Linked DNA regions of Homo sapiens. The protein of the gene in region 1 interacts with the protein of each later gene in a pairwise test. Each region holds a gene or a part of one and is shown on either strand. Other genes may lie near its edges.

Region 1 (16,241 bases):
GGAGGCCACGGGCAGCATCAAGTGACCGTACAAAAATCAGAATTCAGCTAACAAGGGGTCAAAGTGAGACATTTAGGAGGACCGAAGAAGAATTCTGGGTGGTGGAAGGTTTAAAGGGACATGGGGCCTCTTCCACAATCGCTCTAAGATTGTCACCTGTGTAGAACTCCCTAAGTTTTAAAGGATCCCTGGCTAATGAGATAAAGAAGCCTAAAGACTTCAGAAGCTTCCCAAATCTGCATCTGAAGGCTGCAGCTCTTTTTCTGGCAGGAACTGAAGCTCAAAAGGGAGATCAACATAGAGTCTTCACTGGGAGATGATGTCTCAGCATTTGGTGGTGAAGCTCTGTGACTGAAGCCCTGACCTCCTTCTTGGTAGAGGAGGCCAGAATCTTGACATCTTACCAGAACAGAGATTAAGCTCAGAGGCACATGCAGGACTCTAAAAAGACAGAAACAAAACAAAACAAAATAAAATAAAACAGTAAACATTGGCCTAACACACAAAACTACATTAATGGTAGTTAGCTATCTCTATGAGGCCACAGTCACAGAATTCCTTTGGGTTTTAATTTTTAGGTAAAAATATGATATTTATTACAGTATTACAGAATGTCTTACAATTTACATAATTAAATTCATTTAGTTGAGACTTTTATCATGTTTCTGATCATTACAGCTTTTTTCTTTCTTCTGGGATATCTGGATACTGTTGAAATACTGTGGCAAAAAAAACAGTATGGTAATATTTTTGCTCAGTTCTTTTTTTTGAGCTTCGGCACCTAGGTTGGAGTGTGGTGGTGAGATCATGGCTCACTGTAACCTCAACCTCCAAGGCTTAAGTGACCCTCCCACCTCAGCCTCCCAAGTAGCAGGGTCCACAGGTGTGCACCACCATGCCCTGGTAATAATTTATGCTCAGTACAAATAATTTTTTATTACTATTCTTTCTAGGAATCACCTATCCTAAAACACGTGATACATACAAATTACGATATCTCAATAACAGCTAGATTTTGCTGTGTGCCAAGGCACTGTTCTAGGTATTTTACATATATTGTCTCATTTAATTCTCTTAACAGTCCTAAGCATTAGGTGGCATTTTTATCTCTCATTTTACTAATGGGAGAATTGAGATGCATAAAGATGGCTGTAATATATTATTATATTGGGGATATTTATGTTAGGAGTTCCTGGATAAAAACCAGCCCAGAAACCTAGTTCTGTTTTAACTTCTTCCAAAGGCCTCCTGATTGCCAGTTAATTGTATTACTCCCTGTATTATTATCCTTCTTGCCCACATAAGTTTTGGCAACTAACATCTGTTTGTGTCCTGAAGTTTGAATTAATAGACAATTATTTATGAACATGGATTTGAATGCCACTCACAGATCAGTGCCAAAAGCATCACTTTGGAAGTTGTTAAAAAATCATACTTCCAGGCTCTACCTCTCAGATAATCTGATTCAGGAAAGAAGTCAAAATAATGTGGAATTAACATGCCCTCCATGTGAGTCTGATCTGCAGCCCAGTTTAAGAAGCTCCCAGATCTAGAACAGGGAGATCTACACTTTTTTGATCAATCATTCTTTTCTAGTAAAAGTATTTTGAGACTATGTAGCCACTGTTTGTATATGTATTTATTCATAAATAATATATACAGGTATTATTTTGCCTACATGTTGTACATTATAAAACATATTCAAAATTGAAAGTTAAAAAGTCTATGGTAAAAATGGAAAAATAATATTTTAAAATATGTATCTTATTTATTGAATAAAGTTCTCACCAGAAATATAATACACCTCATTATTTGAGCAAATCTTTAATACTCTGTGATACAGGAGTTTTAAAGTCGGGTTCTAAATTCAGTTTATTTTTGACACTTAGTTATAATGGTTGTCAAAAGTGAAAAAAGAAACCTCCCCAAACCTCCAAATGGATAAAGTACATCATTGGCAGCAGATACTAAGAATGATATTTGTTTTTCAATGCCATCTGGTAATTAAGCAAAAAATTTTGATGAAATGTGGCTACTAATTTCCATAGTCACTGATGTGAGTCAGTAGCTCTTGCAAACTAATTGGAAGAGACATTACATTTTCATAATTTTTACCGATGGGCTTAAAATGAAAAGCACAAAACTTTTTATACGGAATATTTTGTGTATTGATTTTCATGTATGAGAACCTCAAAAGAGGCCACCAGTTTCCATTTGATTTAATGAAGTTTCATAAAGTACTTGATAGAATATGACTTTAAACTTTGTTGAATTTCCTTCATGTTCTATATATATAATATATATGCATATATTAGTATCTGTGTATATGTATTATCTGTATATATAATCTGTATATATATAACTTCTGAGTCCATAACATGCATAAATATATATACATCACACATACATGCATATATATTTATATATACTTATATAAAGGTACAAATATATACACACGTATTTAAACTTAGTGTGTGTATAAATATATATTTAAACATTTAAAATCTAATTTACAAACTCAGTGTAAATATACACATAAATATACATCTTGTTAAGGTGCCATTCAGTATAGTGATAGAGATATAAATGCACATTTCTTTTCTTTTTTTTTTTTTTTTTTTGAGATGGAGTTTCACTCCTGTTGCCCAGGCTGGAGTGCAATGGCATGATCTTGGCTCACTGCAACCTCTGTCTCCTGGGTTCAAGCTATTCTCCTGCCTCAGCCTCCCAAGTAGCTGGGATTATAGGCATGCGCCACCACACCCAGCTAATTTTTGTATTTTTAGTAGAGACATGGTTTCTCTATGTTGGCCAGGCTGGCTTCGAACTCCCAACCTCAGGTGATCTGCTGCCTCGGCCTCCCAAAGTGCTGGGATTACAGGCTTCAGCCACCGTGCCCGGCCATAAACGCACATTTCTAGTAGATTTCTTAATATTTGAAATTATTTTGCTTGGCTTTGGTCGGATCTGATTCATTGGCATTATCATTACCTTCCAATGTATCTGCAAAAGGACTCAAGTTAGAAGTGTAACTATGCTATTTTATTGCTGTTTACATGTGCCTGCATTATTACTGTTATCTTCAAACTGAGATTATTTTGTTAAGAAACTTTAAACTAGGGTTAGTTAAATGTTAAGAAACATTTTGCTAGGGTTAGTTTAGTTAAAACTAGGTAATATAATCCATAAATCCACTGATTCCTGCACATACTAACTTCAGTATGTCTCAATATGTTGAATAAGTGAAAATGTAAGGACCTCACTTTTTTTTTTTTTGAGACACAGAGTCTCGCTCTGTCACCCAGGCTGGAGTGCAGTGGCGCAGTCTTGGCTCACTGCAACGTCCATCTCCCGGGTTCAAGCGATTCTCCTGCCTCAGCCTCCCGAGTAGCTGGGATTACAGGCGTGTGCCACTGCACCCGGCTAATTTTTGTATTTTTAGTAGAGACGGGATTTCACCATGTTGGTCAGGCTGGTCTCAAACTCCTGACCTTGTGATCCGCCCGCCTCAGCCTCCCAAAGTGCTAGGATTACAGGCGTGAGTCACTGCACCCGGCCCAGGCCCTCACTTTTAACTGCTCCATGGTGTGGGCCTCCTCACGTTCCCTTATGGCACCTTCTATATCCTGACTCAAGCCTGTTCAACATATGTGCAAACTAAGGAGCTGGCCAGTCCGTTGTATTCAATACCAGTGAAGCTTAACTTCTTTGTCGTGTCTCCAGGCCCATGGATTCAAAAGCTCAAAGGGGTCTGCCTAAGCATGGAATGACTTTTTAAATTTGAGAAAAATACCCATACCTACAAACACTTGCATACTGGGGAGTTAGTCATTGAAATCCTGAAGTCTCAGATTGAGAATACCTTGTCTAAAGACATTTTACGGCCTCAGGGAAAAATTTCATTTGGTGAGAGATGCATCAGGATTTATCCACCATATATACTTTTTTAAGGTATGCACTTTAGGGCTAATCCAGGCTTCTGGCCCTGTGTGTCACTTGTAGGCACTATAGGAAGTCATTTCCTAGCCCCACCTGAACCTTCTTGAACATCTTTTTTTTTTTTTTTTTTGAGACAGAGTCTCACACTGTCACCCGGGCTGGAGTGCAGTAGCACTATCTCGGCTCACTGCAACCTCTGCCTTCCCAGGTTCAAGTGATTCTCCTGCCTCAGCCTCCTGAGTAGCTGAGATTACAGGCGCCTGCCACCATGCCTGGCTTATTTTTTGTATTTTTGGTACAGATGGGGTTTCACTATGTTGGCCAGGCTGGTCTCGAACACCTGACCTTGTGATTCCAAAGTGCTGGGATTACAGGCGTGAGCCACCACGCCTGGCCTCTTGAACACCTTAAAGATCTCCTCTAGGACATCCCACATAAAACGTGATGTATGTTAGTATTTCTCCTAACTAGAGAAAAGCAGTTACCATCTTGTTTAATTCTCTGTTCTCTCAATAGTCCTTAAAAGACAATTCAGTTTCCTTCTGCCATGAGTTAAATCACTCTTTGCTCTATTGAAGTCAACAGGATACAAACTACATCTTGATGGCAGAGGGAGGGTGTCGGGAGTGGTTTCTGTTCTGGTCTCCCTTCCTTGTCCGTGTGGTAAGCCATTTCCACACAGCTTACACTGATATCCTCCATTGATGCCCAGGTTCCTTTCACCTTGAGTCAATCCGAATCTTTCTGCTCCTCAGTTCCAGGGAATTTTTGTTGAAATAACTGATCTGGCCCACAACAATCTCATGTAATTTAACTTCATCAATATATTCATTTCAAGTTCTCACAGTATCTCCCATGATAGTTTGCCCAAACCTTATACAATTTCTTTGAACAGCTTGTCCTGTTAGCCCTACTTTATCCTGGGACAAATGCAGCAGACAGAGGGCAGAGTATGGGATCTGCAGTCAGAAAAAGCAGAGTTTAAATTCAGCCTCAGTAACAATGTCTGCAGCTTTCAGTTACGCTCTTACACACTCTGGATCTCGATTTTCTTATCTCTACAATGGGAACAAAGATATTTGCCATGTCTGACTCTCATCAATGTTAGACTATTTTTTTCCCTAATTAAAAAAGTTAATATCTTTTTTATTTTTTTATTTTATATATTTTTTTGAGACGGAGGCTTGCTGTTGCCAGGCTGGAATGCAATGACACGATCTCAGCTCACTACAACCTCTGCCTCCCGGGTTCAAGCTATTCTCCTGCCTCAGCCTCCTGAGTAGCTGGGACTACAGGCGCACACCACCACGCCCAGGTAATTTTTGTGTTTTCGGTAGAGATGGGGTTTCACTATGTTGGCCAGGATGGTCTCAATCTCTTGACCTCATGATCCACCCACCTTGGCCTCCCACAGTGCTGGGATTAACAGGCGTGAACCACTGGGCCCAGCCAAAAAGTTAATATCTTTTAGTTTGTAAGAAATAGACTTGATCCTGCAGTTTTATTTTGTTTTCTCCCTCCCACCTTTCATCCTTTCTTTCTTTCTTCTTTTTTTCCCACAAGGTTCTTTTGCTCTATTGCTTTTACTTTTTTTTAAACCTCTTCGAACAACTCAGAATTTTTATTTTAAAATATCTTTCAGATTGCTCTATTATCTCTGAATTTTGGAGTGCATGTGCTTTCATTTTTTTAGTAACTAGTGATTTTCATTTATAATAGATTTTTAAAAATTTATTTTTAGTTTTAATTCATGAATAATAATTATATATTTATGGGGTATAATGTGACGTTTTGACATAGGTATACATTGTAAAAGTTTAAATCAAGTTAATACATTCATCACCTCACCTACTTATTTTTTATGGTGAGAACATTTAAGATCTACTCTTTTAGTGATTTTGAAATATACTTTGTTTGTTTGTTTGTTTGTTTGTTTGTTTTGAGACGGAGTCTCTCTGTGTCCCCCAGGCTGGAGTGCAGTGGCGCAATCTCGGTTCACTGCAAGCTCCGCCTCCTGGGTTCATGCCATTCTCCTACCTCAGCCTCTAGAGTTGCTGGGACTACAGGCACCTGCCACCACGCCTGGCTAATATTTTGTATTTTTAGTAGAGATGGGGTTTCACCATGTTAGCCAGGATGGTCTTGATCTCCTGACCTTGTGATCCGCCCGCCTCAGCCTCCCAAAGTGTTGGGATTACAGGTGTAAGCCACCGCGCCCGGCCCGAGGTATGCATTATTATTAACTACGGTTACCACACTGTGCAATAGATTGCTAAAACTTACTCCTCTTGTTTAACTGGAACTTTTTGTACCCTTTGATCAACACCTCTCTATTCCCCGTTTTCTCTGTACGAGGATTTGTTTTTGGTGTGGCTTGTAACTTTTGACTTTAAGCTCCTCTTTAGTGGAGATTGTTTTCTGTGAGTGTTCCATGTGGCCTAGATTATGTGAGTACCCAGAAGCCTTGTTATTCAAAAATCAATCTCTACTCAAGAACATTTTTCAGTAATTGTCACTTTTCTCCCCTTCCATACAAATTTTTCCTCCCTACTGGATCATTCTAATCAGTGTGTAAGCATGCTGTAAGATCTCCTAATTTGTCTCATTTTGCTATTTCTTTTTATAGCAAAACTTCTTGAATGACTTGTCTATATTTGCTGCTCTAATTCTTCTCTTCTCGTTCCTTATTGAACTTATTCCATTCAGGATTTCTCTACTCCCAACCACTCTTATAAGGTCAAGGTCACCAGTGATTTTATACTCCTGTTGCTCAGTCAATTCTTAATCCTCATCTTACATTTGATCATGGCATTTGATTAGTTGATGATTCTTTCTTTCTTCCTTTCTTTCTTTCTGACAGAGTTTCGCTCTTGTTGCCCAGGCTAGAGTGCAATGGTGTGATCTAGGCTCACTGCAACCTCTGCCTCCTGGGCTCAAGCGATTATGGGTTTATACCTTTTCTTAAGGTGCCAGTTTGTATATTACAGGCGTGCACCTCCACGCCCAGCTAATTTTGTATTTTTAGTAGAGACAGGTTTTCTCCATGTTGGTTAGGCTGGTCTCGAAGTGCAGACCTCAGGTGATCTGCCCATGTCGGCCTCCCAAAGTGCTAGGATTACAGGCGTGAACCACCACACCCAGCAATTCCTTCTTTCTTTGAACACTTTATGCAGTTGGCTTCCCGGATACCACTCTCTGTTTTCCTGCTACCTCAGTGGCTCCTCAGTTTCTTTCTCCTTTAATAGATTTTTCTTATTACCCTGACCCTATATGTTGGCGTGGTCCAGGGCTTGGTCTTTATAGTGCTTCTCTTTATTGTCACTCATTGTTTCATGGCCTAAACGTTTATGGGTGGGCCTGGTGGCTCGCACCTGTAATTCCAGCACTTTGGGAGACTGAGGTGGGTGGATCACCTGAGGTCAGGAATTTGAGACCAGCCTGGCCAACATGATGAAACTTCATCTCTGCTAAAAATACAAAAAGTAGCTGGGCACGGTGGCAAGCATGTGTAATCCCAGCTACTCAGGAGGCTGAGGCAGGAGAATCACTTAAACCTGGAGTCGGAGGTTGCAGTGAGCTGAGATTCTGGCACTACATTGGGCAACAGAGCAAGATTCTGTCTCAAACAACAACAACAACAAAAACTTTTGCAATTTCCTCTGCCTGGAGGTTCCCACAGATACACGCAAGGCTTGCGTCTTAATTAACTTCCGGTCTGGATTCAAGCCTGTTTTATCTGTTAGTCCTTCCCTGACCATCCTATATAACTTGCACTCCATCTCTAACAGTACCTCTCCTCCTTACCCCAATGTAATTTTCTTCACAACACCTATAATTACCACTTGTGCACTTATTTATTGTCCAGCTCACCCTACAAAATATAAGTCTTGGGAGGGCTGGGACTTTGTGTGTTTAGTTCATTCTTGCATATATAGCTATTGGAAGAGTGCTGGGCACATCATCTGGTAAATATTTATTGAATGAGTAAGTGAATAATAGAAATAGATGACACCTTTTCATTATTTCCTAAGCTGAGGTAGATATCTCCCTATTTTAAAAAATATTTTGATTGTTCAGCCTGTTTCGAAATAAGTGTTTATGCCTTTTCCTAAGGTGCCAGTTTATAAAGAAATTATTAAACTTCAAAGTGTCATTTTCATATCAGGAACCATCTACCAGGATTAGAGTTCTCAAACTGAGGTTTGTGGGTTCCAAGGATGGGTTTCAAGGCTGTGTTAGCTCCCTGGATTTGAGTGCAAAGTGTTGTATGTAGATGTGTATGTGCATTTTTCTTGGGAAAAATTTTACCTTCCATCAGATTCACAAAGGAGTCAGAACCCAATTAATGGTTTTGAATTACTGTTATCTTCCTTGGGTGTTGATCAGCTAAAAGCGAACACATTGAAGATAAAACTCCTATAATCTTCCCCTCTAAACCACCTTATCTCTTGACTTTCTTAGAAGCAGAGCACATTGATGTTGGAAGCAATACCCAATGAAGGTGTCCCTCTAAATGTGCCTGGTAAATTGTTAGCCATGCTGTCCTCAGGAACTCAAAGCAGCGCCATCAATCACATGAATGTTAGAAACGTCCAGCTAGGTGCCATGGCTCATGCCTGTAATCCCAGCACTTTGGGAGGCCAAGGTGGGTGGATCACTTGAGGTCACGAGTTCGAGACCAGCCTGGCCAACATGGTGAAACCCCGTCTCCACCAAAAATACAAAAAAAAAAAAAAAAAAAAAAAAAGACTAGAAACTTCCACCTATGTCAGGCTGAAACAGTAGTTTCACACATAGGATCTTGTTCAGACCCTGGGACTTAAGAGAACATGTCGAATCCCTTTTCCGCTGGTCACTTTTCAGGTACATGAAGATGTAATCCCATCCCCGCATCAAGCTTTATTTCTCCAGAGGAGGATCTTTAATTCTTGTAAACATGGGACAGGTACAGGACATGTTATGATAATGACAGGTACAGGACATGTTATGATAATGACAGGTACAGGACATGTTATGATAATGACAGGTACAGGACATGTTATGATAATGACAGGTACAGGACATGTTATGATAATGACAGGTACAGGACATGTTATGATAATGACAGCTCTTCTTTAAATTTTTATTTTTTATTTATTTTATTTCCATAGGTTATTGGGGAACATGGCAGCTTTTTTTGAATACCCTCCTCTTTGCCAGTTGCCCAAGGTGGAACACCCAAACTTTGACATGATACTTCCATTAATGCAACTTAGTATCACAAGTTGATGTCGTGGCCCAGCACAGGATGGCCTGGAAACCGGCAACACTGGACGCTGGGGAAAGGGTAAGAAGGTCTTGACCATTACAAATGGTGTGGAACTGAGCCGAGGGAGGGATAGTGAGAAGGGAGAGAGGGTGAGGTGTCTGAGAGACAATGAGGTCAAATCAGAGGATTCAGCCATTGTTGGCGTGTGGGAAAGGGAAGGAGAAGGGAAGAGTCAGGGATGACATTTGTTGAGAGAGAGAGAGAGAAGAGAGAGAGACGCAGGTGGAAAGAGGATGGCACCACATTGGACTAGCCCCAACGGAATGGGGAGAAGTGGGAGAGGACCCAGGGGATGCAGAGCTGATGAGAGTGGGAGAACCAAGACAGAGGAAGAAGGTTGGGGCAAATCAAGTGTCTCAGGGAGGCCCAGTGAGGCAAGAACGGAAAGGAGAAAGGCGGCGGTTAAGAATCAGGGATAATGGCAGAGCGTTGCAGCTCTGCGGGTGGGACTGGGCGGAAGGGTTTGGGAGAGACAAAGAAATGATCTTTGAAGGCCTCGCAGTGCTTGGCCGAGTGCCTGGCACAGAATAGGTGCGCAATAAATGACGGGTGAGAAGTGAAGGAACTCAGGAACAGTGATTAGTGAGTGAGTGACGGAAGGAACGGAGGATGGCGTTGGCTCGGGAACCTCGCTGCCATGTCGGTGGAGGCTCCTGGGCTGCAACGCCAGAGAGAGGCGGGGCGTCCCCGACGGCCAATAGGAGCTTCGGTATCAGCTCCGCCCCCGCCCCCTAGCTCCGCCCGGTGCCGCACGTCGTTCGCCTGCCGCCTGAGGCGCGCGCAGCCACCCAGCTCCCGGAAGTGCGCCCGGAGCCGGCGCCGCGGGCCGAGGTGAGCGCGCTTGCGGGGCGGTCCCGGCCTCCGGCCGCTCGGGGTCAGGCCTTGCGCTATCTGCGTCCGCACCTGACTCAGCTGGGCACCCCGGAGCTACGGAGGGGCCAGCGGGCTCCCTTGCCCATGCGTCTGGGAGCGCGCGGGGGACGTGGCGAGTGCGGGGCCGGGGCAGCCATGGCTGGGAGTGGACCGTGGGTGCGGGGGGATGTGTGAACCCCGTCCCGGCTCTGCATTCCTGCGCCTCTGCGCCCCGCGGGACCGGCCGGGTCTCTGCACTGGGACCGAAAACGGGCTCCTCCCCGCTGTCTTCCCCTAAGGGCTGAAAATGAGTCTCTGGAAGAGGAAACCCGATGGGATGATGCCTGGAGTCTCTCCCTCTCTCATCAGAGTGCAGTCGGCATTTGGGGGGCGCATGGTGGAGAATACATATCCAATGAGCAGCGCTGCCCTGGCCTCGAGCACTAAATGCCAGTTCCCCTAGCTGCTTGTGACAACCAGAAAACGCCCCAACAAATCACCAGACGTTGGCAGTTCTCCCCAAAGCAAAGGCTTTAGAGCTTCCTGGGTTAATCTGGCTGCCACTTGTGAGCCTCGGAGGTTCCTGATCTGTACACCAGGGTAATTGTGGGAATTGGAAATACATGAACCGAGCTTAATAATGAGCCGATACGTAGTAGGTGCTTAACAAATGGTTACTTATATATGTAACCATGTATGTAACCACTTGTGTATATTACACCTAGAATGCACTTTTAAAAATTCATTCTATTTGTTAAAGGTTTAATAACAGGTATAACAGACAACCTTATTTTTTTTTCATAACTAATGGGGGCAGTTCCTCATGAGGTTATCGGAATATAAACTCTATTAAATTTTTAATACTATATAAAGTAATTTAATTTTGAATAATCGAGACATTTTTCTTACACACTACCTGGGAGTATAATATTACTAACAAAAGATTTAAGTATTTTATAAAATCTGTAGTTTTTCCAAAATGTCATTTCTCTTAAATATTATCTAAACTGCTATCTTAATTTAGGAAACAGATAAATTGCAGTAAGTTTACAGGTCGGTATCTTGCTATCTAAAATCTTGCCGCTTGTTATTTGAAACTCTTGAGCCAAATAGGTTGGATTTACAAAGCAAGGTATTTTTAAAAATATATTTATTCGTTTTTTAAGATGTTATTTGAAACTGTAGGTTTACCTCTGAGCTAAAGCTGCTTTTCAGGTGGTTTGATAATGCTGTCATTGTCACTCAGTATGAAAACATATTTTAATTTCCTTTGTGATTTTTTTCTTTGACTATGGGTTAAGAGCATTATTTAGTAATTTCCATAAATTGGGATTTTCTAGTTATTGTTATTGATTTCTACTTTAATTGCACTATGATCAGAGAATATATTTGAACCCAGGAAGCTCTAAAGTTTTCCATTTGACCTTTCTGGTTTTGTTTCTCTTGTGTTCCTTTTCTATCAGATATTGGGTTTTTGAGTGTTTTTTGGTATTGCTTTAATGGCTTTTTAGCAATACCACTTTGCGTAATATTTTTAGAGCTAATTTTAAGATATCAGTCATTTGAAAATTATGCATATGGTCTGTTTTGATGAATACTCTTTGCACTTGTAATGAATGTATACTCTGCAGTTCTTGGGTCTAGTGTTCTGAAAATGTCAATTAGAGCAAGTCGGTTGATAGTGTTCAGATTTTTTGACTTCACTGACTCTTTTTTTTTTTTTTTTTGAGATGGAGTCTCCCTCTGTCGCCCAGGCTGGAGTGCAGTGGTACGATCTTGACTCACTGCAACTTCCGCCTCCCAGGTTCAGGCTGTTCTCCTACCTCAGCCTCCTGAGTTGCTGGGATTACAGGTGCGCACCACCATGCCCAGCTAATTTTTGTATTTTTAGTAGAGATGGGGTTTTACTGCGTTGGCCAGGCTGGTCTCAAACTCTTGACCACAGGTGGTCCTCCCGCCTAGGGCTTCCAAAGTGCTGGGATTGCAGGCGTGACCCACCGCGCCTGGCCTGGGTTTCTTTTTTTTTTTCTTGCAGTGGTGTGATCTCGGCTCACTGCAACCTCTGCCCCCTTGGGTTCAAGCAATTCTCCTGCCTCACTCAGCCTCCCTGGTAGCTGGGATTACAGGCATTCACCACCACGCCCGGTTAATTTTTGTATTTTTAGTAGAGATGGGGTTTTGCCATGTTGGACAGGCTGGTCTTGAACTCCTGACCTCAAATGATCCCCCTGCCTTGGACGCCCAGAATGCTAGGATTACAGGCGTGAGCCACTGCGCTCAGACCTGGGTTTCTTTTTAAGCAAAAAATAAATTTAATGAGGACCACATAAAAAACATTTGGTATTGGATTACGGTTGCAAGGGTCCATTTATACAAGGATTTTCATCTGCCTCTGTGACTCCTGCGACTGCAAGACCAACCCTTCCTTCTCCTTCTCCTGTTCCTTGTCCTCTTCAGGCTACTCAGTGTGAAGATGATGAAGGTGACCACCTTTATGGTGATTCACTTCCACTTAGTGAATAGTAAATGTAGTTTCTCTTCCTTATAATTTTCTTTTTCTTTTTTTTTTGAGACGGAGTCTCGCTCTGTCGCCCAGGTTGGAGTGCAGTGGCACGATCTCAGCTCACTGCAAGCTCTGCCTCCCAGGTTCATGCCATTCTCCTGCCTCAGCCTCCCGAGTAGCTGGGATCACAGGCGCCCGCCACCACGCCTGGCTAATTTTTTGTATTTTTAGTAGAGAAGGGGTTTCACCGTGTTAGCCAGGATGGTCTCGATCTCCTGACCTTGTGATCCAGCCACCTCAGCCTCCCAAAGTGCTGGGATTACAGGCGTGAGCCACCTGGCCTGGCCTCTTCCTTATAATTTTCTTAATAATATTTTGTCTAACTTACTTTATCACAAAAATACAGTAACATGCAAAATGTATGTTAATCAACTATTTAAGGCATCAGTCAATAGACTGCTAAGCTTTTGGGGAATCAGAAGTTATATATGGATTTTCTACTGTGTGGGGGGTTGGCGCCCCTATCTCCTGCATTATTCAATGGTCAACTGTAATTCTTTTGACTTCGCTTTTTCCTTTCTCAGGCCCTTGAAAAAAAATTGTTTTTCTTTTTTAGTTTTTAAATGATTTTCCAATGTCGGATAAATTATTTTGGTGAAACGGTAAGGATGAAGACATTGTTTCCTACACCTTAAGAAATAAGCAGCTACAAAAAGCTAGAGTATTGTACTGATCTCTGATTAAGCCAGATCCTCAAGTGATGGGGTATCTTTTTTTAAAAATTGCTGTGATTAGTCTTAGGGAGAAATGATGACCACCAAATTCTTCATAACATTTAAGGATTTACCCAGTAATCCTATATTGTGATTACTTGCAAGAAAGTTAACTAGAAGTAGTGGATGATCCTTTTTAGAATAATATTATTTGCGATTTAATATTTCTCTTTCTACTGTCTTAGTTGTGATCTTCTAAAATTTGATACCATTCACATAAAATAGTGATTATTTATATCAACACCATAGGAGTATTTTCAAGGTAGTTAGTCTTCTCAACCCTCTTTTTTTTTTTTTTTTTTTTTTTTGTGAGACGGAGTCTCTCTCTGTCCCCCAGGCTGGAGTGCAGTGGCGCGATCTTGGCTCACTGCAAGCTCCACCTCCTGGGTTCACCCCATTCTTCTGCCTCAGCCTCCTGAGTAGCTGGGACTACAGGTGCCCGCCACCATGCCCGGCTAATTTTTTGTATTTTTTTTTAGTAGAGACGGGGTTTCACCGTGTTAACCAGGATGGTTTCGATCTCCTGACCACGTGATCCACCTGCCTCGGCCTCCCAAAGTGCTGGGATTACAGGCGTGAGCCACCATGCCCAGCCTTCTCACCCTCTTTAACCCCAAGGTTGAAAGTGTCAGGTATGATACTTGTTTTTTTCATAAATTCTCAAATAGACCTATTTTAATATGGCACTCAAAAGACCTCTCTTGGAAGTTTCATTACACCTTTTTGGTATACTTTTGGAAGTACTTTTGGTACCTTTTGGAAGACTTAACTTGTTCTCTTTAACCTCCTATTTATTACAGAAGCATGTAGGCATTAGCTTTTATTCCTAGGGCATTAATATCTTTTTCCAGCTTTATTTTTTAGTATGCAGATATATAGATGAAGATGTAGAAGTGTTTTGTAGAAGAGCCGTTTACCTGGAAACCTATAGTGAAAAAGTTTCGTATGGTGCATTTTATTCTTCATTTTGTCTGGACATTTGAAGACCAAGAAAGAACATTATAAAATGGGCAGGGAAATGGTGGCTGTTTAGATACAGTATCAGTAGTTTGCTTTGTGGCTTCAAGTTTATAATCTTTCAAAATAGAATCGTGTATCCATTGAGCAATTTCAAAAGCTCCATAGTTGACCCCATGGCTTCTCGGGTAGGGCATGTGAATTTGTTCTTTCTGAAAATGTGTCCCCTTCCTCTGTGTAGCACTCAATCTCATTCCCTTTTTAGTGTCCTGGTGAAGACCTAGTTCTTGCCGGAGACAATTCCACTGCAGAAGCACTTTACTTAAAAGGACTTGCCAGGCTGGACAATGCCCGTTGACTTGGGGCAGGCCCTAGGCCTGCTGCCATCGCTGGCGAAGGCCGAGGACTCCCAGTTCTCAGAATCAGATGCTGCCCTTCAAGAGGAACTCTCCAGCCCTGAGACCGCACGCCAGCTTTTCAGGCAGTTCCGTTACCAGGTGATGTCTGGGCCTCATGAGACCTTGAAGCAACTTCGGAAGCTCTGTTTCCAGTGGCTACAGCCAGAGGTTCACACCAAAGAGCAGATCCTAGAGATCCTCATGTTGGAGCAGTTTCTGACCATCCTGCCTGGGGAGATCCAGATGTGGGTGCGGAAACAGTGTCCAGGAAGTGGAGAAGAGGCAGTGACCCTTGTGGAAAGCTTGAAGGGGGACCCCCAGAGACTGTGGCAATGGGTAAGCAGAGGGTATTATGATCTGCGAGTGAAACACAGGGCTCCTCTCTGGTCCCATCAGGTGTGTTGTCTTTTTTCTGATACCACTTATGACACAAAATGGGTGGGGCTTTTCACACCAATGGCCAATTCTGTGATTCTCTAACACCAGTACAGTGTCCAGCAATTCAGTTCTGAAGCTAACTCTGGAGGTTCAGGGCTCAATCCAAGACTGCTCCTGTTCTCAGATGCCAGTCACAAGTCCCAGGGGCCACCTGTACTTCTGACAAATTGGCTATAAATTCGGAGGTTCCCACAGTCTTCTCTTCAAGTTTGATAATTAGTTAGAATGACTTACAGAACTCAGGGAAGGATTTTACTTCCTGTTACTGACTTACTCTAAAGGATACAACTCATTAACAGCCAGAGAGAAGAGCTGCATAGAGCAAGGTGTGGGGGAAAGAGCGTGGAGCTTCCATGCTTCTCCTGGCGTGCTACGTTACCAGTACCTCCATGAGGTCACCAACCTGGAAGCTTCCTGAACCTCATGGTTTAGGGATTTTTATGGAGGCTTCACTGCTTTGGCACACTTGATACAGTCATTTGCCGTTGGTGATTGAGTATCTCCAGCTGCCCTCCCCTCCTCAGAAGCTGGGTGGAGATACTGAAAGTTCCAACCTTTTAATCTCAAGGTTGGTTCCTCTGGCAACCAGCCCCCATCCTGAAGCTATCTAGGAGCCTAGCATAAACTCAGGTGTGGTTGAGAAGGGCTCCTTATGAATAACAAAGACTCTTCTTTCACCTGTCCCTCAAGAAATTACCAGGGTTTTAGGAGCTCTGCGGGAATGGGAACTGGGGACAAAGACTAAATGTGTATTTCTTATTATACCACAGCTGGGTTCCCCCATACCTCACGTAATTCTAACACTCTCTGACTCTCAACACTCTTTAGCTATTGAGGATTGAGGGTAAAGTCTCCCAGCGCATTCCACCTTTAGACTAGAATGTTTGAGAAGTTATTTAAAAGATGCCTGAGTTTTCATTGGTGGCGCATATCCAGTAGAAGCACGTTAGTGGCATGTCTTGAAGGTCTCCCACGCCTGATTCGGGCCTCAGCTTTTGGTGTCTTTTGGGACGTTTCTTTCCCTGGTTCCTGCTGGACTAGAAATAAAAGCTGGTTTTCTCTTTCTCCACATC
Region 2 (16,840 bases), on another chromosome or scaffold:
GATTTCTCTAAAGTTAAAAGAAATTAATGTCAATGATACCTCCAGCTGATTGAAGTCCACCCTTTCCACACTGATGTGCAATTATATGGGAAAAAAATCAAGTCCATATATGTAGGTAACAATTTCTGATTTCTTTTTCTGTTCCATTGATCTGTTTGTCTTTCTTTGGCCCAAAGCAGAATGTCTCAGTTATTATAGTTTTTAAAATAGGTCCTGCTATCTGGTACAAGTCCTCCTTTGTTTTTCTTCTTCAAAAATGTTTTGTCACTCTCAGTCCTTTGCACTTCTTTTCTACATATACAACTATATAACCATGTTTAATGACTGCTTTTTTTAAAAAAAATACTTCTCAATTGTCATGTCTTTCATTTCTTTTTATCATCTTATTGCACTGGCTAGGATACCCAATACAATGCTGAATAATTAAAGTGATGATACTGGGCATTCTTGTCTTATTCTTAATCTCAAAGGAAATTTTTCAATATTTTAAGAAATCATTGCTTATTATATTTTCTGTAGACATTTTGTCGGTAGGTTTTAATAAGTATGTCTTCTTGTCCTAGTTTGCTAAGGAGTTGAATTTTATTAACTGCATTTTCTACATCTGTTGAGATTTTTCTTCAATTTGTTGATGTGGTGAGTTAAGTACTACAAGCAAGAATACTTGATAATGCTAAAAACTGCTATTCACAGTGACAATGTAACATGTAAGAGTATCTGTAGACATAGATATAACACCTAATATCTATGCTCGTAGCAACCACCTTTATAAAGCAGAAACTGCAGTGGATGCAACAAAATCAATAGAAATACAGTAATAATGACTTCAATGCAATGTTGTTGCAACGATCTTTTTACAGAAAACACACTTGCCACTTGATTTTTCCATATTTTTTATGTGATGAAATAGACATAGCACAAAATTTACTATCTTAATCATTTTTAAATTTTTTTTAAATTTTTTACAAGACGTGGTCTAGCTCTGTCACCCAGGCTGGAGTGCAGTGGCACAATCATAGCTCACTGCAGCCTCAAACTCCTTAGCACAGTAATCCTCCCACCTCAGCTTCCCAAAGTGCTGGCATTACAGGCATGAGATCCTGCACCTTGCCTATCTTAATCATTTTTAAGTGTACAGTTAAAGTGGCATTAACTATATTTATTAAGTACATTCATATTGTTCATATTCCACCACCACCACCACCACCACCACCACCACCACCACCACCACCACCACCATCCATCTTCAGAATTCTTTATCTTGCAAAACTGAAACTGTATGCTCATTGAACAATAACTCCCTATCCCCCTTAAAGCTGTCCCTGGCAACCACATTCTACTTTCTGTCTCTATGAATTTGACTACTCTGGGTACCTCATAAAAATAGAATCATTCAGTCTTTTTGTGGCTGGCTTAATTCACTTCATGTAATGTCCTCAAGTTTCATCCATGTTGTAGCACGTGGCAGAATTTGTTCTTTTTAAGACTGAATAATATTCCATTGTATGAGTATACCATATTTCGCTTATCCACTCATCTGTTGATAGACACTTGGATTGCTTCCACATTTTACCTAGTGTGAACAATACCGCTATGAACCTGGATGTGTAAATATCTCTTTAAGACCATGCTGTCAGATATTTTGGGTATATACTTAGAAGTGGAATTGCTGAATCAAATGGTTATTCTTAGTATTTGAAGAATTGTCACACCATGTGGTTGCACCATTTTACATTCTCACCAATAGTGCATAAAGATTCCAGTTTCTTCACATCCTCACCAACACTTATTTCTTCTTAATAGTTTCCATCCTACTGGAGTGGTGAGAAGTGGTATTTGATTGTAGTTTCAATTTGCATTTCCCTAATTATTAGTGACGTTGAGCATTTTTTCATGTTCTCATTGGCCATATGTGTATCTTCTTTAGAGAAAAGTCTATTCAAATCCTTTGCCCATTTCTGCATTGGATTGTTTTGCTTTATTGTTGTTTTTGGAAGTTCTTTATATAGTGTGGGTATTAATCCCTTATCAGATACATGACTTGTAAATATTCTGTTTTTTACTCTGATAGTGTCTTTTCATGCACAAAGGTTTTTAAATTCTTGTCAAGCCCAATTTGTGTAGTTTTTTCTTTTGTTGCCTGTGCCATTGATGTCATATTCACAAAATCATTGCCAAATTCAGTGTTGTTAAGCTTTTGCCATATGTTTTTTCCTAAGAGTTTGTAATTTTAGTTCTTATATTTAGGTCATGATCTATTTTAATTTTTGTATATGGTGTAAGAGACCAGCTTCATTCTTTTGTAGTGGATATCCAATTTTCCTAGCACCATTTGTTTAAAAAACTGTCTTTATGCCAATAACACACTTGTTTTGGGTAATGCAGCTTTGCAGTAAGTTTTGAAATCAGGAAGTGAGTCCTTAAACTTTGTTCTTTTTCCAAAATTGTTTTGGCTATTTGGGAGTCCTTGTAATTCCATATGAATTTGAGGATGGAGTTTTCTATTTCTGCAGAAACATCATTGGGATTTTGATAAGGATTCCATAGAATCTGAAGATTGATTTATATAATATTAACATCTAAACAATATTAAGTCTTCTAATCCATGTACATGAGATGTCTTTCCATTTATGTCTTCTTCAATTTCTTTTAGCAATGTTTTATAGTTTTAATTGTACACATCTTTTACTTTCTTGATTAATTCCTAAATATTTTTTTCTTTTTGATGTTACTGTAGATGGAATTGTTTTCTTTTCTTTCTTTTTTTTTTTTTTGAGACAGAGTCTTGCTCTGTTGCCCAGGCTGGAGTGCAGTGGTGCAAGGCACAATCTTGGCTCCCTGCAACCTCCACTTCCCAGGTTCAAGTGAGTCTCCTGCCTCACCCCCTGAGTAACTGGGATTACAGGTGCCTGCCACCACACCTGGCTAAATTTTGTATTTTTCGTAGATACAGGGTTTTGCCATGTTGGCCAGGCTGGTCTCGAACTCCTGACCTCAAGTGATCCATCCACCTTGGCCTCCAAAAATGTTGGGATTACAGGTGTGAGCCACTGTGCCTGGCTGGAATTGTTTTCTTAATTTCATTTTTGGATAGCTTCATTGTTAGTGAATAAAAATGCAACTGATTTTTGCATGTTGATTTCATATCCTCCTACCTTGCTGAATTCATTAGTTATAACCATTTTTTAAATGGAATCTTAAGAAGGACTGGTGTTGGTTCTTCCTTAAACATTTAGTAGAATTCATCAGTGAAGCCATCAGGTCCAGGGCTTTTCTTTGTCAAGAGGTTATTTTTAGATTACTGATTGAATCTCCTTACAAGTTACAGGTTGATATGGTTTGTGTGTGTCCTCACCCAAATCTCATCTTGAATTGTAGCTCCCATAATTCCCACATGTTGTGGGAGGGAGCCGGTGGGAGAAAAAACTGAATCATGGGGGCAGTTTCCCCCATACTGTTCTCATGGTAGTGACTAAGTCTCACAAAATCTTATGGTTTTATAAGGGATTTCCCCCTTCACTGTTCTCTCATTCTCTCTTGCCTGCTGCCATGTAAGACGTGCTGTTTGCCTTCTGCCATGATTATAAGGCCTCCCCATCCACGTGGAACTGTGAGTCCATTAAACCTCTTTTTTCTTAAAAACAAAAAAATTACCCAGTCTTGGGTACGTCTTTATTAGCAGTGTGAGAACAGACTAATACACACGTCTATTCATATTTTCTATTTCTTCATGATACAATCTTCGTAGGTTTTTTGTTTCTAGGCATTTGCTCATTTCATGTAGTTACTCCCATTTTTCAGCATACAATTGTTCATAGTACTCTCTTATAATCCTCTTTATTTCTGTAGAATTGATGGTAATGTTCCCATTTTCATTTCTGATTTTAGTAATCTGAGTCTTTTCCTTTTTCGTAGTCAATTTAGCTCAAGTTTTATTAACTTTTTTAATCTTTTTAAGAACCAACTTTTGGTTTTGTTGATTCCATTTTTGTTTTATCTGTGTTTTGATCTTTTATTATTTTCTTCCTCTGCTAGTTTTGTGTTTGCCATTTGTTCTTGATATTTAATGTTAATAAATGTTTTACTTTTTAATAAATCTGTTAATATTCCAACTGTTTTTTAATATAATTCCTTTCCTTTGTAATCCTATGTTTTAAAAACACTTGAAAACATTGAAACGACATAGGCTTCACCACACTTGTAAAGGTGCCATAGCACAAAAAAGGTTAAGAATCTTACTCCTATTTAGAAACCCCCTTCCCAAATCCCCAATTTCCATTACATATCCTGCTATTTTCCTCTTAGATCACTGGTTTTTAGACACATAAATATTCCTGTTATTCCTTGAACAGAACAAAGCAAAACTTCTAGTCAGGTGCGGTGGCTCATGCCTGTAGTCCTAGCACTTTGGGAGGCTGAGGTGGGCAGATGTCTTGAACCCAGGAGTTGGAGATCAGCCTGGACAACATGGGGAAACCCATCACCACAAAAAATACAAAAATTAGCTCACTGCCAACCACTTCCACCCAGAAGGGATTCTTGTGCCTCAGCCTCATGAGTAGCTGGGATTACAGGCACCCGCCACCACGCCCAGCTAATTTTTTGCATTTTTAGTAGAGACGGGGTTTTGCCATGTTGGCCAGGCTGTTATCAAACTCCTGTCCTCAGGTGATCTGCCCGCCTAGGCCTCCCAAAGTGCTGGGATTACAGGCATGAGCCACAGAGCCTGGCCATCTCCACTTTTTCTTATCCCCCAAAAGGATTAACATCCCTGGCTTTATGTAGAATAGTGTACGCTGCCACATCAGTGTTTGAGTCATTCCCCAGAGGAGAGGGGAATCCCCCCTCCATTTTTTTTTTTGCAACATCTTGTCTTCCCTTTGCTGTTGCTTCCCCCAACACACTTGGTTTTGTTCTATCCTGTACTTCAGATTTGTTTTTTGTTTTGTTTTTTTCATATTGAAAAGATGACATTGCTCCAAGAGGCAAAAATAAATGGGAACTGAAAAAAAAAAGCTTTTTATCTTATTTATTTAATCTTTTAATTCACCTGGAATGAATATTATGTCAATTGGGAGCTTAAATGCTTAAATGTATTTTTCCCCAAATGGTTAACTAATCCTCCCAATAGCACTCATTTGAATAATCTGTCCTTTCCCCATATATGTTACATGTCTTTTACAAAATACAGCCTATTTGAGGTATGTTTCTGGGCTTTTGTTCTATTGAGCTGTCCATTTGCTTACACCAGAAATGCCAGTTTATTTTTTTGTAGTCTTGCAATCTTTTAATTTCTACTAGTGCTTTTTAATTTAACCTTAATCCACTGTATTTGTATTTTTTTCAGTGGTGGTAAAAGGAAAAAATTAAAAATCTAATGAAAGCAGCCAAAAGCACACAATTTATGTCCTGTTAAGACTTCCGCATGTAAGTATCATGCTCCAAATATATTTTTCATCTTTACTTTTTATGACGGAAAGGGCTCAAGTACTTTGGGAAGCAAAACAGAATCGAGGGACGCCGAGAAGATACACAGCAGGCATGTAGGGTAGCGTGGTTGGCAACTGTTCTTACAAAATTTTAATTTGAATTATACGTAATGTACGTAATAAATTACTATTTGGATTTCCCTTTGGCATAAACAGCCAGGGAATATAACTAACATCAAAGATCCCAGACTCTCGACACAATATACTACTAATCGTAACACAATTCTAGAGGGTCAAAAAAGGTAGAGAAGTTTGGACCGTGGAACAGACCTGGTGGAATGTCGACACAAAGCGTTTCAGGGTAGACAAAGCCTACTCAGAACACCCTAAACGCGGAGTTTTGCTAAGTTGGGACGCTAAAAGGCAAGGGAATGACAGGACGTCCGCAGGCTAATTCGCCATTAAGAAACAGAACCGCGGCTTCTTCCACCTCCAGCGTCATCGGCCCCCAATTCGCTGTAACAAACGGATAGTGTCTCGCAGCATCAGACAACGGACTTGGAAATCAGTTTGCGACCACGCATCTGCGCCTTTTCTAGGAAAAGAGGAAGGCGGGTCCAACACTGGTAACGGCAGAAACATAGTTCACAAGGGCCACTGCAAACGCCCCGCCAGCAGCGGAACCGTTATCTCGCGAGACGACGGATCCCCATAAGGCACAAACCTAGCGCCAAGGTTGGCTGTCAAGGTAGATTCCAGGGTGTGGAAGTGGCTTTGTGGTGCCACCTCTAACCGCTCGGAGGTCAACCCCCATTCTACACCGAAAACTAGGCCTTGGCTGCTATGGAAGGACAGCGGCAAGAAAGCCACGCAACCCTAACACTCGCCCAGGCTCATTTCAACAATGGAGAGTACGCGGAGGCCGAGGCACTGTACTCCGCTTACATTCGCCGGTGCGCTTGCGCGGCCTCCAGCGACGAGAGTCCCGGGAGGTAACTATCGCGAGACCTGGGGCCGCGGCGACCCCGGGTGGAGGCGACGTTGGGGTTGTTTGGGCTCCTATCTTTGCCTCTGGAGCTCACGGTCGGCGCTTGTCATAACCCAGCACTAGGACTGAGCGGGCGGACGTTCGTCTTTCTAGAAAGGCCTAGGCGAGGCCTAGGACGAGGGCGGCGGAGAACGCGGGGAGAAGCCCACCCGTGAGGAGCCAGCTGCCGCGACGGTGCGGAGAGATTTCCGGGAACCAAGCCCTCTGCGCGATCCTCGGGCGCGGGCCGCCGCCTCTCACCCCGCCGTCTCTCCTTCCACGTTCCTCATTCGCACCCAGAGACTTAGGACAGATAGGAATTTTCCACTCGTGATTTTAGCTGGCGGGAAATCCGCGACCTGGGAAGGGAAGGGGTCACGGCTGCGTAGGGCCACAGTACCGCGACTCCCATCTCAGTGTCACGGCGCAGGCTCTTGGTGGTGTTTTTCACTTGTGAAAAACGTTTAAATATGTGGAAGAGAGCATAACGAACGTCTAGGTGTTTATCACTTGGCTTAAGCATTATCAGTTTACCTATTGTATTCATCCATGGATGTTTCAGAAGGAACCACCATGTCATCATCACATAGTTACTTAATATCAAGTCGTCAGTGTTGGAACCATTCTGATCGACTAATAAGGTGTTTTGTTCTTTGGTTCCCTTTTCGCAGTTAGTTCAAGTCAGGATACACATCAAGTCTTTTTAAGTCTCTTCTCCACCTTCCCCTCTTTATTTGTTGAGGAAACCGATTCTTGTGTCCTTTGAATTTCCGTGTTTTGGACTTGCTGACTGAATCTCTTCTGTCGTTTAATGTGGTCATCTGTCTCATATTGCTGTGAATTGGTGGTTAAACCTTGAGGTTTGATCCAATTGAATTCAGATTCAATATCATGGCAAGAATACTTTTTAGGTGGGTGTGTGTACTTTCACCAGGAAGCACATAACGATTCGCTGACTTTCTCTTTGTGATGTGAGCGGCTTCACCTGTTACTGTCTGCTTGCCCAAAGCATCTTTTCGGCTTGTGCCTGGATGTGTAGCATTTGTTTTTACTCCAAGTCTTGCCTCGACTGGGCTTGTTGATGGTATGGAGTGGATCAGGATGAGAAAAGAACAGAGGGGTTGGTTGAACAGCTTTTTGAATAGTTGTGAGTTGTCTGTTGTGGATTTGAGTTTTCTGGACAGGATGCCAGCTTGTCTTTTGTATGAGGCTTAACTAAACACTAAGGACTTGATTCTTACCCTGTTTGTTACGCTACATGGAATTAAACCAGAAAGAAAATTGCCTTCTCATTTCAATAACACACAAGAATAATAATAGAAGTTTCTGAACAGGCAATAAGATGATACCATCTACTTTCCTCAGTGCACCTCCCCCATAAAAAAGATAAGTAAACATAGAAAGCGAAACTATTCATGTTTCAAGCTCTAAGAGTAGACTTACCTAGTAGATTTTAAAAAGTATTTATCAGCATCAGGTATGCTGTTGCTGTCTAGTCTTGTTATTCTTCCTTCTTTGCACCTCTCAGCCTAAGAACACAAGTGTCTGTAGCATATATAATAGCTATGCCTTACCAGCACAGGAAAGACAGTTTGTCATAGCGCAGTAGAAGGGAGTTCATCATGCCTGAATTCCAGTCTTGGCACTGCCACATGGCTAATGTCTCAGCCTCAGTTTTTCATCTGTAAAATAAGCTTTTGATAAAATTCTAGGAACTCAAGGATTGAAACTGAATTCTGTCATTTCAACTTTTTCCCTTCAATTTATCTTTTGGAGCTTACATTTATTTTCTAAGTATTGGGTCACTAAATCATTTTGAAACAATATTTGCAATTTTTGAATGCCTTTCATTCTGAATGGTTTGTGACGTTTTCTTTTAATATCTAAAGTATAGCTTTAGTCATAAACCTAATTTCCAAAGTGTGTGTGTATATATATACACACACTTTATATATAAAAAATATATATACACACACTTTATATATATATAAAAAATATTTTTTTTTGCGAAAGTTAGCAAATCCTAAAAATTCACATTTGGGTTAGGTAACTTGAATGAATTCCATTATAATAAATACTATCATTACAAAAATTTTAATATTACAGAAAATTTCGGCTTCAACTGTTAGTCCATTTCTTTAAAATATGAAACAAAATTTCCACATGAAAACGATTTTAGAATTTGATTTAATGAGATCTAATTCTAAGTCTAACATTTTATGATTCTCTATATTACGAATATATAATTAGTATTAAAAACTTATAACAATAATTTTGAAACTTCGATTTAATGACTAAAACCTTACTGGCATCCTGAGATTGCTTTTTTCTTTAAACTCTCTACTGGGAGCAGTTCAACTAGTGTCATGTCACACATAGGTGAAGGGGAGTGGTACCGTCTTGTAATCTAGGTTTTAACGGGGGTGCTTAGTGGCATCCAGAAGTATCCCTACATCCAGTCTCCATCACAGCTCATAGAATAGACGTTTTCTAAAATTGCGACAGTTCCTCTCCATCGTTAGCAAACTTGGTTTGAAGGAGGCCCTTGGGCTGTGAGTGCCTCTTAGGGTAGCAGTAGTTACAGTCCCTGTCTGAAATCTCAAGGATCAAGATATTAAGAGAAGTAGCTTTTATTTACACTAACTGCCTTCACAGATACTTTCGGAGGACTATACTTTTTACTACGGGGTATTACAAAGAAGTGACAGATGAATTCTCTGTTTGGTTCTAATTTGAGAATTGCTTTGGGAAAAAAGAAAGGGAAACAGAATCATCCCTGACTCAGAGCAGAGGCACTAATGTTCTCTGTGCAGACTATTTGTCCTGTGCAGAGAAAGGTTCAAGGCAGCCAGGGGCTGTGACCTGTTGAGCTGGTGGCTGGTCAGAGCTACCTGGCTGTACAGCCCAGGAATGGCTGCTAATTTAAAGCTCTTTGGGCAACCTCTAGTTCCCTCAGGTGCAGAGCCAGTTCTGCACAAAGGACATCAAAATTGACTGGAGCCCTGAGGGGGTCTAAAGGAGCCCACCCTCCTAGCAGGAAGCCAGCCTGGCATTGGGGAGGATGCCAGCTGAGGCTGGAGGGAGGGCAACTCTGTCCCCAGAGATAACTTCCTGGGGATCGTAGCATGTTGAATTTTCACTTAGCGTTAACTTTAGTTTTTTATTGGTGGAAAATGATTTCAAATCTTATTGTTTTAAGATCACTTAAAAATTTGAGAATGAAATTGATTCACATTGTGACATATCCATAGCAAACTCGGGCTTTGGGCTGGCTTTCCCTCTTTGCTTAGTATTTATCTGTTCTGTCTTCTTTGCCCTGCTGGTGTGTGCTTAGAAAAATGAACAATCATTTTAATGTTATATTCAGCAGAACAAATTGGCAGTGAACACACTGTAAAGTTAGTATGCTTTTCAGGTTGACATTGCAGTGGTATAACCCTACAAAAGTAGATAACAGGGTTAAACAAAAATTGATTTTAGCTCTTTATTTGTACGTTTTTTCTTCAGCTTGGATTTTCAGTGTTGATGCTGCATGTTATAGGCTGTGAAGTTTGACAATACCCAAAAGAGAATGAAAGTGGAAATGAGAGGAATTTGGTAACACGGTGTTTTTAATGTGAACTTTTTGTTTAAAGCAAATGCAGCCCTGAGGATTTGGCTACTGCATATAACAACAGGGGGCAAATCAAGTACTTCAGGGTTGATTTTTATGAAGCCATGGATGACTACACATCTGCCATAGAAGTCCAACCCAATTTTGAAGTTCCATATTACAACAGAGGGTTGATACTGTATAGGCTGGGTAAGAATTTTTTTTCTTTTTGAGTTTTGTCATTGACTGTATTCTGTTATTTCAGAGCTTTCAAATGTTGTAAAACTAACGTGGTAATCAAATTTTAAAGTTCTGTGAAATTTAGGTTTAGAGCTTGGAACAAAGGAAGTGTCCCTGAGTTTATTTTAGGCTTTTGATAGGCGTTATAGATCACAGCAGAGCACTGGGGTGGGAATTGGACCTGGGCGCAGGAGCAGGGGTGACCCCATTACTTTGTGCTTGTGCATTCCCAGCTGTGAAATGAGGGCAATTCAGATGTTCACCTGTGAAACTTTTCTGAGTTAAAATCTTTGAAGACACACAAGACAATAGAAAGTGAAGTTTAGATTCTTGGATTAAAGGGACCATAGGTAGTGTTTCTTCATTTAAAGTGTCAAAAAGAAAATTAGTTCCCGTTTCTTAATTTTACTGCAATTATGTAAAACAGGTGATACAGTTTTATTAAAATTTTAAGATGATTGATAATATTTACCTGTTAAATCTCAATAAATAAACCCATAGCTAATTTTAGGTGTATTATTCCCTAAGGGCACACAAAATTACTTTGATATACACATCTCTATATTATTAAGATAAAAAGATTCCTTTACTAGAAGTGACTGAAAGCTCATAAATATAAAAGCAAAAGTACATGTATCAAAGCTTTTCCATGAATAATATATAGAAATACTCGGTTTCTTTTCTCTTTTCCATTTTTTGGGTTCTGGTACAGGATATTTTGATGATGCTTTGGAAGATTTCAAGAAGGTCTTAGACTTAAATCCTGGATTTCAAGATGCTACTTTGAGCTTAAAACAGACTATTCTAGACAAAGAAGAAAAACAAAGAAGAAATGTTGCAAAAAATTATTGATATTTTTAACTTAATGGAAGTATTGATTCATGATCCTTACATCTGCATCTAGTTATCAGTAATTTAGATATTGAGCTATTTTGATTTATATTTAAGAAATTAATACATTAGCACTGAAAGTTAAATAGTGTGTTTAAGGTAGTTAATTTCAGGTTGAATGGGTTTTTTTTAATGAAGTGTAAATAATACCAATGTATAAGTGTATATTATTATATTAAATATTATAGTAAAAAGGAATGTGTGGTATTTTCTTCAGCAAAACTATTTTTGTGATTTTTTTATTCTCAACTTTTTATTTAAAAAATGTTACATCTGCAGAAAAGTTGAAAGTATAATAAACTCTTCAGTTAAATTCATGAGTTGTTAATATTGTGCCACATTTGCTTTTTCTATTTAAATATATAACTTTTTGCTGAAACATTTGAAAATAAGGTGACGAGGTCACAGTACTTCGCCCCTAAATATTTCAGCCTACATTTTCTAAGATTGAGGACATCCTCCTTTATAACCACAATACCATTATAATACCTAATAAAATGAATAATTCTGTAATGTCAGCCATATCCAGCCCATATTCCAAAGTGTGTAGATTTTTATTTGGATCTAGAGCCAATCAGGTTTCAATTGCATTTTTTTTTTTTATGTTTCTCTCAGTTCTTTTAATCTAGTCCCCTGTCCATTTTCTTGCCCTAGCATTGGCTTTGAGAGAAAGGCTATTTTATATAGCTAGGCTAGAGAGACATAACATTTAGGCTTAAAAATAAACATGTCCTACAATTTGAAAGAGTTCAGCTTGAATTACACTTGATTTTCTCAAGTAATCATTGATAAAAATAGGTTAAGATTTAAATATTGAACATATTTTCTGTCTCTGGATAATGACAATTGTTATCAACATTTACTGAATACTATAAGCCAAGCACTGTTCAAATCTCCATAATAATTTGGTGATCAGGTAGGAATGTATAGAGAGGTGAGGAAATGACAAAAAGCACTTAGTAAGTATAAAGTTTAAAAATCTTTTATTTTGGTGCTGCCAACAATTAGGCCCTTATGAAGCTATCAAAAACCGGGAAGAACTTGAAGGGAAAACAGACTAACACCAGCCATATGCCATCTACATTTTTTGTATTTTATTGTTGTTTGGCTTCCAAAGATTCCCAAACTAGTTTATTACTGCTATGGAAAAGCTGTTCTGTGGTGGAAATTACCCGAATCAGGAGAAAGGAAAGTTTGCTTTGTGTCTTCAGAGGAAGGCGCAGGGTAACTTCTGTGGCCTCAGATGCAATCAGCAGCAGCAGCCTTAAAATGCTTTTTTTGTGTGTGTATGAGTAATCTCATGAAGCAGAAAAAGTAATTGCCCTGTTTGTAGCTCATAAGTAATATCTGGCAAAATACATGGAGAGTTTGGGCTGTAGGTAAGTGAATATTAAGAGGAAATTAAGTTTCATGGCCTAGAAACAAAGTCTCTGTTTCTGGAATTATTCATACTTTCCAAAACGGTTTATCTTATATTTGTTGGAAATCTAAAAAAATTTCTAAAATTGCATTAAAATGTAGAAAAATCCTTAGGAAAACTTTTTTTTTAAAAAAGCAAGTTTCCTAGACCTTGGGAGGGAAAGCTTTAAGCCATTCCACCCAGAGAAGCAAATGCTTAATGTTTAATTTTATTTTCTCTTGACTCATATTCTCTTTACTCTTGACTGGGATCAGATGGAATATGAAAAGGAAAAATTGTTTAACATTTTCATGTGGTTTGTTAGATTATATTCAAAATTTCTTCATCCTTTATCAGAAAAAAAAAAAAAAAAGTCACTTAAGTTCAGAATCAGCAGTTGCTGATTGTAGACCCAGGCACTCATTTTCTCTTGTCTTGTTACTGGAAATAAAGAATAATTCATTTACCTTGTTTAGCGTTGAAACTTTAGGCATTATTCAGATTCTAAGTTTCTGATTGACCAAATAATACCTTGGATATTTACCTTAAAATATATTCATTACCGTTCATATTTCCCACATTTCAGTATTCGTTATTTCCTTTTTCTACTAGAAAAGTAACTTATGTTTTCTAATTTTTTCCTTTGTAAAAACAAAAGAATTGTGGTTTGTTATAAGGTTTCTCTTTCACAAAGTGAGGTAAGATAGGATAAAATGGATTTAAGTTACTTTTGAGTTTAGAATATTACTCCTAACAGTAGTTGAAAAGTGTGGAGCTATTTGTTTTTTTCTGAAATTTGGAACTGAATAAAACCCTTTACTTTATGATAGCAAAGCAAATATCCAAGTTAGTCTTTAGTCATTATCTATTTGCTCTTTTGCTCTGTCATTTGCTCTTTTGCTCTGTCTTTTTTGGTTTTCTGTTTTTCACTGGCTTCTCTACCCTCTGAATCCTAAATGTAGCCTTGGCTCCCTGTCATTTTGTAGGTCTTAAATCTTTCTCCGTGGGCATGATATATTTCAACCCCACCTACCACTCAGCGTTTACACTGATTCTTGTCTCAATGTCTCCCTTTCTGCTAAGTCTAGCCCCCTTAAAAATTTAACTCAGAAGTAAACAGTTTGTATATAAACCGTAATAGCATGTTTTTTTTTTTTCTTTTTTGAGACAGGGTCTCACTCTGTTGCCCAGGCTGGATTGCAGTAGCTTGATGACAGCTCACTGCAGCCTTGACCTCCCTGGGCTCAGGTGATCCTCCCACCTCAGCCTCCTAAGTAGCTTGGACTATAGGCATGCGCCATCATGCCCAGCTAATTTTTGTATATTTTGTAGAGATAGGGTTTCACCACATTGTCTAGGCTGAGCATGAATGTTTACTGTGCTAGTTTTTTGTTTTATTGAGAATAATTCATATATCATATAGTTTACCCATTTAAAGTGTACAGTTCAATGGTTTGAAGGTATATTCAGAGTTGCTGCACCATTTTTTCAAGGTTTTTGGGTATACTGGTCTTGCATGCAAACTGCACTTAAAGTTACAACACAGAAAAAATTTTATGCAAATTAATGACTAAACATGAGAGTGTTTCAAAAACAACAGCTCATGCACAAAACAGATCTAAGAGTCCTAAAAAGTGCTGCTTCTGGCTTCATTCAAATATGTGGCACGATTCCACTTTGTCTCATGTGATGCTCTCTAACTAGAAATGTGTTGAGTAAATCAGACGGCTCATCTCTGCCTGAAATGGATGCTGAATTTAGTGTGTTTAGGTTAACATATTGCTACGCTAAACAAATTGTTGACAAATGTGTAATAGCTTTTCAAGAGCATAGTGAAAAGTTGACTGAATATTTGCTATTTACGCTAGGTGTGTAATTTTAACAATTTCTATATAAATTCACATTTTGGTGTTTTCTGTGTTTCTAAAAAATGTGACAGTAAATTGTGAGAACAGAATGCCCATAATTTAAAATGGCAGTTGGTAAAAGAGGGAGAGTGAGATTTGTTAAATTTCAAATCTAATGTTAAGGGACTTCAAATGACACCATTTCACTCTACAGAAAGGAAAGAAGGATGAGTATAGTCTAATTTCTGTTTTTGAAAAAACAAAGCAATTGATACAATTAAAACACATAGTTTATCCTTTTTAAAATCACAAGAAGGTAAAAGAACACGTCATGTAGCAAGACAAATTATAAAACAAGCAACCTGTAAGGAAGCCCCGAAACTGAAATTATGAATGTGGATATAAAAGTAAAATAGGAACACAACAGTGTAATCCCAGGTTTATATGTGTCATCACAAAATCATAAATATAGCAGTTTAGTGAAGGTCTTATTCTGCATAGAGGATGAAGCTAAGAAATTGAGTAACTTGTGCAAGGTTGTGTCCAAAATCCATATAAATATTTGAAACTGCAATGAGTATCAATGTTTTTGCTGTTGGCATCAACTCACAGCAGATATGTGGACTTTTTTTTTTTTTTTTGGTCCTGATAAAAAATTTAAATTGCTCATAAAATGTTTTAGTACCCAGCAAAGTGAGTATCAGAATAATATTAAAGTATGTTTTTAAATAATGGAATGTTATTGCAATGCCCACATTGCTTGGTGGTCATTTTTCTTATTAAAAACAGACACAAAAGATGGTGAAAAGCAGATTAATTTTAAGAGCAAACTCCATTTGGAAACTAGATAGCTACAGCTGCCAATATGTAAATTTTTATCTTATGTCAAAAAAAGCATCCAATACGTAGAAATAAGGCAAAAGGATTTGCATGGCATTTCAATATCATACCAGCAGACCCACTCAACGACTGTTTAATTCTTTTGGGGAGCCATGTGTGTGCCTTTCTTTGATTTTCTATTTACTCTTGATTAGGGCCCAGACTCTGGGAGGTTGCATGTAACTTGCAGATTTTTGTCCAGAGGAGATGCAAATGAACTCTGGTAGAAAAGATAACCCCAAAAGTTTTGGCTGTATTGCCCTGAAGAACGTTAACCAGTTTTGTATTTAACCTAGCAACTTTATTCCCAAATTCTTTCTTCATGGACCATAAGTACTCAGTTATTCTAATGCTCTTTTACCACTCTGGCGGTTCTCTATTAATGAGTTAAACATTTTTCACATTTTCATTCTATATTCTTATAAGAATCGTGCTTAACTTCAAAAAACATTTTGGCCCTACTACTGAAGAAACAACAAAAAACCCTTGGTATGGTTTGGCTGTGTCCCCACCCAAAATCTCATCTTGAATTGTAATCCCCATAATCCCCACATGTCAAGGGAGAGACCAGGTGGAGGTAATTGAATCATGGAGCTGTTTCCCCGATGCTGTTCTCGTGATAGTGAGTGAATTCTCACGAGATCTGATGGTTTTTAAGGGTTTGGCAAGTTCCTCCTTCTGTCATTCTTCCTACTGCCTTGTGAGGAAGGTGCCTTGCTTCCCCTTTTGCCGTGATTGCAAGTTTCCTGTGGCCTTCCCACCCATGCTGAACTGTGAGTCAATTAAACCTGTTTCCTTTATAAATTACCCAGACTGGGGCAGTTCCTTATAGCAGTGTGAAAACAGACTGATACAACCCTTAAGTAGAATTTATTATTACATAGTCACATTATTTCTAGCAGGAATAAGAGCCAAGGGGGACTGAAAAGCTTCAGTTTTTTTTTCTGTTGCTTATTTATTTTTTTTTTTTGAGACAGAGTCTCGCTCTGTTGCCCAGGCTAGAGTGCAGTGGCGTGATCTCAGCTCACTGCAACCTCCACCTCCTGGGTTTCAAGGGATTCTCCTGCCTCAGCCTCCTGAGTAGCTGGGATTACAGGCATGTGCCACCAAGCCCAACTCATTTTTGTATTTTTAGTAGATACCGGGTTTCACCACGTTGGTCAGGCTGGTCTCAAACTCCTGACCTCATGATCTGCCTGCCTCGTCCTTCCAAAGTGCTGGGATTACAGGCGTGAGCTACCGTGCCCAGCCCGCCTATTTCTTTAAACTATTCAACAATTCTTGTTTGGAGTGTGTGGAGGCTTGAGCTCTGGCTGAAGCGAAGTAGAGGGAAGGCCATCACATTCAATTTAAACACATGCAAAAAGTACTCCTTTTAAAAGTGGCAAACCTGCAGAATATAAGGTAAAAAGCAGTTCCTGTCTATCCTTCTAGGCCTTTTTCTTTGTACAAATACATGGGCACAGGTATGCAGATACATGCGCAGAATTATGGTATACATATTATTTGGTAACTTAAATCACTTATTATTTTGAA

What was found.
Region 2: the proteins of ZNF18 (region 1) and TTC32 interact in binary tests that used the Homo sapiens proteins (3 or more experiments, as listed by UniProt).

The regions. Positions count from the first base shown.
Region 1 is NC_000017.11:11,991,268-12,007,508, reverse strand, and holds the start of ZNF18 (zinc finger protein 18), read left to right. Parts: upstream 1-10,033; 5' UTR 10,034-10,078; intron 10,079-10,136; exon of another isoform or gene 10,137-10,236; intron 10,237-10,398; exon of another isoform or gene 10,399-10,699; intron 10,700-11,829; exon of another isoform or gene 11,830-11,951; intron 11,952-11,982; exon of another isoform or gene 11,983-14,007; intron 14,008-14,597; 5' UTR 14,598-14,679; coding exon 14,680-15,066; intron 15,067-16,241. UniProt on the Homo sapiens protein: May be involved in transcriptional regulation.
Region 2 is NC_000002.12:19,891,287-19,908,126, reverse strand, and holds TTC32 (tetratricopeptide repeat protein 32), read left to right. Parts: upstream 1-6,143; 5' UTR 6,144-6,272; coding exon 6,273-6,421; intron 6,422-10,091; coding exon 10,092-10,258; intron 10,259-11,000; coding exon 11,001-11,140; 3' UTR 11,141-11,496; downstream 11,497-16,840.